2 linked regions of the Homo sapiens genome follow. The protein of the gene in region 1 purifies or fractionates together with the protein of each later gene. This does not show direct contact. Each region holds a gene or a part of one and is shown in the gene's direction. Other genes may lie near its edges. The genes, in order: F10 and PIP4P2.

Region 1 (3,828 bases):
CAATAGAAAAAAAAGCCCCAATATGTCCCCCAAACGATTCGGTTTGGGGGCATGATGAGAGAGACACAGTCACTTCTCTGCTCCTCCGAGAGAGACTGTAGAACATTGATGAAGCGTGTGATCCATTCATGTGTAAACAGGAGTGGACTCTCTGTTTTCCTTGGGGCCAAGTGCATTGCCCTGTTATTCCTGCTCCTTGTGACCCTGTGCAGTGATTCTAAATCACCTCTTATTTATGTGTATGGATGCAGGTGTCAATATTTGTGAATATTTGTGATTGGCCAATTATAAAAATTTGATACATTTAATTAGTTCTACGTGGAAAAATCACTAAGTGCTTTCTCTAATGTGGTGATTAAGTTTTAAATAAAAAGTTAGGCTACTGTTAGATCAATTTCCCTAAGGAAAAAGATTTGCATTTCTTTTAAAGTACTTAATTGATCATCTTTTTTTTTTTTTTTTTTGAGATGGAGTCTCGCTCTGTGGCCCAGGCTAGAGTGCAGTGGCACGATCTCAGCTCACCGCAAGCTCCGCCTGCCAGGTTCACGCCATTCTCCTGCCTCAGCCTCCCAAGTAGCTGGGACTATAGGCCCCGGCCACCAGTCCCGGCTAATTTTTTTTTTTTTTAATTTTTTAGTGGAGACGGGGTTTCACCGTGTTAGCCAGGATGGTCTCGATCTCCTGACCTGGTGATCCGCCCGCTTCGACCTCCCAAAGTGCTGGGATTACAGGCGTGAGGCACAGCGCCGGCCTAATTGATCATCTTTAGACTGTGTTCTTAGATTGGATTACTTTTGAGTTTTCCCTGATGAGAATATCAATTACGCATCATTCCATTCCAAGTCCGCAGTCGCCTCCCTGGAACACCATTTGGTAACTTATGAGGCATAACCCTGTTCAGGCTCCCAGGGCTATTATGCACATTTTCTAAAATTTCAGGCATGTTGATCTTTGCACTGTGATTACTTTTTCATCAAAAGCCACACAGAGGGATGTGGAGTGACCGTAATGTGAGTGCTGCTGGGGCAGGGGGTACCGGCCATCCCGGAGGTGTGAGGGGCAGGTACCTGGAGCCTGGCTTCTGGCTACACCGGGCACTGCACCATGAGCTCCCCGTGACCCGTGAGGTTGCCCTTCAAGGCAAGTGTACCTGTCGCCTGGCTCTGGCCCTTTGCTCAACCCAATGGCCGCTTTGTGGCTGACAGGCAAGTGGATGTAGCTGGCACCCTTGGGCCAGCCCAGCCTCCATTTCTCCAGCTGTCCCCAGAGCCAACGTGCCTCTCCTTTGCAGTCACACGGAAGCTCTGCAGCCTGGACAACGGGGACTGTGACCAGTTCTGCCACGAGGAACAGAACTCTGTGGTGTGCTCCTGCGCCCGCGGGTACACCCTGGCTGACAACGGCAAGGCCTGCATTCCCACAGGTAGGAGGCACGTTGGGCCACAGCCACCCGCTGCCGCTGGGCCGGGCCAGGGAGGACAAGCCCGTGCCAGGGGGTGGGGACACAGGCATGTTCTGGGCGGGCCTGGCAGGTAACAGTGACACCAAGAGGACAGGACTGAGCCCTGGGCTCCGGGCCCAGGTGGTTCAAACATGAAGACCATGAGGTTTGGAAACAGACCCATTATTTCTGTAAGCCAGATCTGCTGTTTAACCTCAGCTTCCCCATCTGACAAATGGGACCAACACTATTGCCTGACTGCTTGGGTGATCCCTGGAGCACTTTGCATGATGCCTGGCCCACCGCAGGCCCTCAGTCTGCATTGGGACTGTGGGGGGATCCAGTGCAAGGGCTCAAAGCACCAGGGCAGGCAAAGGGCAGAGCTGGCCCGAGGAACTGGAGCTAAGGTGCGGGGCTGGGATAGGAGTCAGGGGACGCTCAGGCTCTGAGCTCCTTTTACCAGGACCAGTGTTCATTGAACGTAGTTTTTCTTTTCCTTGATGAATGTGGACAACAGGCGGCCAGAGGGCAGTGAGCACAGGACAGGCAGGGGACTGGGCAGGGTGGGGACGAGCCTCCCTGTCCTGACCCCGTGGGCATTGCCTACGCTGGGCTTGCCTGGCTGCCGGCACTTCCACACGGCCAGCACACATGAGGCCCTCGAAGGCGGGGCCTAGGCGTCACAGCTGCACCTTGCACAGCAACCCCACTCCCACTCATAGCTGGCCCGACCCGCAGCGTTGGCCTCACCCGGGGGCATATTCGAAGGGCAGAGTTCCAGGCCCGCCTTTTCAAGAGCCTGGTGACCCAGCTCACCTTCCGGCTTCAGGTGCGGCTCAGCCCCCAGACCGTGTTCTGCCCCCGGCTACCATGACTGTCCCCTCCAGACACAGGTTACTCCCGAGTGTTCTGTCACTCTTCCTTTCATATCCTTCTTACCGAAAACAATTTACTTCCAAAGATGAGTGATCACGAAAAGACCGGGTTCCATATGCATCCTTCAAGCGCTGCTTCAATTATGTGCCTGAAACATCTCAGCAAGTGAAAGACACTGTGGCTGACCTTGCTACTGGCAATGACATTCAAGCTTAAGCTGGTTAAAAAATATTTTAACTGAAGTCATTTCTTGACATACACACGAATATTTTTTAATTCTAGAAACAATCACAAATCCATTTAAAACCAAGTGTGGGCCGGGTGCAGTAGCTCATGCCTGTAATCCCAGCATTTTGGGAGGCCAAGGCGGGCGGATCATGAGGTCAGGAGATCGAGACCATCCTGGCCAACACAGTGAAACCCCGTCTCTAGTAAAAATACAAAAAAAAAAAAAAATTAGCTGGGCATGGTGGTGCACGCCTGTAGTCCCAGCTGCTCAGGAGGCTGAGGCAAGAGAATGGCGTGAACCTGGAAGGCGGAGCTTGCACTGAGCACTGAGCCGAGATTGCGCCACTGCGCTCCAGCCTGGGCAACAGAATGAGACTCTGTCTCAAAAAAAAAAAAAAAAAAAAAATCAAAAGGCAAATGTGATGTGTGAAAATAAAATTACATAATCTACTTTGTAGTGCAAAAAGTTCAGGCTGGGCAAGGTGGCTCACGCCTGTAATCCCAGCACTTTGGGAAGCCAAGGTGGGTGGATCACCTGAGGTCAGGAGTTCAAGACCAGCCTGGCCAACATGGTGAAACCCTGTCTCTATAAAAAAAAAAATACAAAAACTTAGCTGGGCGTGGTGGCGCACGCCTGTAATCCCAGCTACTCGGGAGGCTGAGGCAGGAGAATCGCCTGAACCCAGGAGGTGGAGGTTGCAATGAGCCAAGATCATGCCATTGCACTCCAGCCTGGGAGACAAGAGAGAAACTCCATCTCAAAAAAAAAAAAAAGTTCAGTTCCAAATAATGGATGAACTCAGAACTTGGAAGGGTGGTGACTGCACACATGGACAGAGCTGAGGCACGGCGGGGTGGAGGCCCCTGCGGCTGGCAGATTCACCGGAGCCTCCTCAGACTGCGCAGGAGCACAGCAAGTAAACAGCTAAGCTGTGCCCATCTGACCCCAGACACGTGTGGCCACAGAGAAGCCCCTTGCCATCCATTCCCCCCTCCTCTCCTCTCCTGCTCCCCCACACCCCTGCCTTCCTCCAACATGTTTCAGCCATTCTCTTGGCCTTGGTGCCCTAATTGGCCGTTATACAAAAGGAAGCTTCCTAACATCTCGGCGTGGCCTCTCTGGGAGCTGTGCTATTCCAGACGCTCTCCTGTGCCTCCAGTTGTTTGCGTGCGCCATTCCTTCTGCCTGAAAACTTTTTTTTCTTCAATGTTTCATTAGGAAAAGTTTTCCAACACACAGCACACTGGAAAGAATTTTGCAGGGAGTCGCACACGCCCAGCAC
Region 2 (2,886 bases), on another chromosome or scaffold:
ATATAGTTTAGTGTGCTTTTTTGTTTACTTCATAACATTTATAGTTACTACAAGTAGCAGTATGGTCTATCAGTTGCAGTCAACAGATACACCTACTCTTATAAGGACTTTGTGTATTCGGTCTGGGGGTATATTTCATAACAATCACATGTAAGCTGATACAAGTTCCCTAAGCAGATATTTTTTAAAGTTTCTAATATTTTGTTTTTATATTGCTTTTTATTTTAGGTTGGCACCCCAGATTTTGCAAGGCGATTTCGAGCAACCTATGTTTCTTGGGCAATTGCTTATCTCCTAGGATTGATCTGCCTTATCCGAGCTTGTTATTGGGGAGCCATAAGAGTCAGTTATCCAGAACACAGTTTTGCATAAGCTTGTTTATGATTCAGTAATGCAGGTGAGAGTGTCTAGCAGTTCTTGGTAAGCTACTCTGGACATCTTTAAATTATTTATCCTAATGGATTCCATTCTGGTTTATGTATAATCGTTTCAAGACTTTGGGAGTCTTTTATGAACAAATGCTCATTGCACTATATTATATGCAAATTGTTTTGCTGCTAGGTTTTCAAAATTTGAATAATAAAGCCTTTTCATGTTCTTTTACATCTCTTATAGATATTTTTGGATTTGTTACCAAACATTACATTTACTCTCACCCTTTTATTATTTTTAAATAAGTTATTTCATTACTTGCTGATACATGAGTATTCCTAAGTGTTTATAAATATTTCTATAATAGTTTCACATTTATATTTACATTTTAATTAAACAGTATCAAAATTGCTTGCTTAAAACCTAAGCAATATGCATTTTGCTTGAACTGCTTACTGTAACTTTAACCTAAGATTATAGTGACCTTATTCAGGAAAAAAAAAAAAATTTAGTGTAACTTCAAAGACTTGACATTCTTGTCAGAGGAAAAAAAATTTCTAGATACTGTTTGCTTGTTTTTTGTTGTTTGTAGAAAGATAAAATATTTTGGTAGTAATTTAAAATACAAGAACGAATATTTATTTGTCCACAGTTGGAGATGTTGGATAAATGTCTTTTCTCAAAGATCACAGGACTTTTGTCTTTCATTTTTGCCTTTTTATTTACCATTTATAAAAGATCTGGTCTGGATTATGGAATTTAATGTTTATCAGCTCTATGTATTCCTTTATAGAGGCTTGAGGAAGTATTTCACATAACATGTTTTATAATACTTAACCATTTATCCAAAGATATATTTACATTGGGTTGTGCCCCTTTCCCTTAGATCATGGTAAATTTTTCTTATTGAGGTAATTATGTACTACTTATATTTGAAGGAAGCTTATGACATTTTACAGTAGCTAAAATGTTGAGATTAGAGGTACTTTTACTATTCTTCTCAAAGGTAACTGATCAGATAATTACCCAAATTATTCAAGAAAATAGATCAGAAATAAAGAACAACATAATTTTCTAAGAATTCATTGAAATTTATGGAATCAGCTCTCGCACTGCCCATCTTTGCAGTTTTGAAAAAGAAATTGCTTAATCACAAATGTTCTACAGTCTTTAAATGTAGTAGAATTAGACAGTGAGATCATCTGAGTAAATTGATTGGTGATTCCAGAGATAAGACTAATATTTTAAATTATTTATGATACTGATTAGTATAAAAACGTACTCATCACAGAATTTGAAGCAAAATACATGTACACTTCAAAGAGTAAATGACAAATGTATAAATGCTGTAGCTCAGGATTATATGTACCTTTAAAAATACACTAATAAAGATTATTGTTCAAAAATTACCTTGTTTTATTCCATTAAAAATAATGTCACTTCCAGAGTTGCCTTGAAATCTTGCTGTAAAGTTTTCATGTTTAGGAATGTACCTGTTTCTTTATATAATATTCATTTATGTTTTTTGTACTATTTTCAAATGGTTTTATTTTTAAAATATAGTTTTTAAATCCATTTGTAATACACTTGATGTTAGGTATAAAATAATCTTACTTCTTTTCCTAATGGTTAACTAGTTGTAACAGCATTGTATACTGAATAATCCATTCTTTCCCTCATTGATTGGAAAGCTCACATTAAATTATATGCTATGTCATATTCCTTCTGGAATAATAACTTTATGAGAGCAAGAACCCTGGTAGTCTTGTTCACAGCTTTATCCCCACTTAGAACAGTTCTTAGTGTACATGTGCTCAATTTACGTGAATGAATATGCATGAATGAATAAATGGTTGAATGAATTGCTATTTTAAATTCTTATATACACTTGAATATGTACTTTATATTTTGTACCAGAATGTATAGGTAAGTATTTGTATAACCTTGGGTTAAGAAAAAAACGTTCTAAGTAGAACTTAAAAGAAGAAATTATATAGGAAAGGATTGATACAATGAAACAACAACAACAAAATCCCCAAAATACTTCTGTATGATAAAAACCCTTAAGCAAAGCCAAAAGACAAACTGGTGAAGCTATTTTCAAAATAGGAGAAAGACTGTAATATCAGAAGGGACTAACGGTATGAAAAAGCAATTCACAAAATGACTACAATAGGTCATAAACTGTTTTTCGATTTTTCTTTTTTTTTAGACAGGGTCTCACTCTGTCACTTAGTCTGGAGTGCAGTGGTGTGATCTCGGCTCACTGCAGCTTCCACTCCCCTGGCTCAAGCCATCCTCCCACCTCAGCCTTCCAAGTAGCTGGGATCACAGCATGCGCCACTATGCTGGGCTTTTTTTTTTTTTTTTTTTTTTGGATTTTTTGTAGAGATGGGGTTTCGCTATGTTGCCTAGGCTGGTCTGGAACTCCTAAGCTCAAGCGATATGCCCAGCTCGCCCCCCGAAAGTGCTGGGATTACAGGTGTGAGTCACCGCACCCAGATCCCAATTTTC

Evidence for each region.
Region 2: the proteins of F10 (region 1) and PIP4P2 purify together in Homo sapiens (affinity purification with mass spectrometry; one large-scale study listed by BioGRID and IntAct). This does not show direct contact.

The regions. Positions count from the first base shown.
Region 1 is NC_000013.11:113,139,628-113,143,455, forward strand, and holds part of F10 (coagulation factor X isoform 1 preproprotein), read left to right. Parts: intron 1-1,291; coding exon 1,292-1,423; intron 1,424-3,828. UniProt on the Homo sapiens protein: Factor Xa is a vitamin K-dependent glycoprotein that converts prothrombin to thrombin in the presence of factor Va, calcium and phospholipid during blood clotting.
Region 2 is NC_000008.11:90,993,163-90,996,048, reverse strand, and holds the end of PIP4P2 (type 2 phosphatidylinositol 4,5-bisphosphate 4-phosphatase), read left to right. Parts: intron 1-228; coding exon 229-372; 3' UTR 373-2,247; downstream 2,248-2,886. UniProt on the Homo sapiens protein: Catalyzes the hydrolysis of phosphatidylinositol-4,5-bisphosphate (PtdIns-4,5-P2) to phosphatidylinositol-4-phosphate (PtdIns-4-P).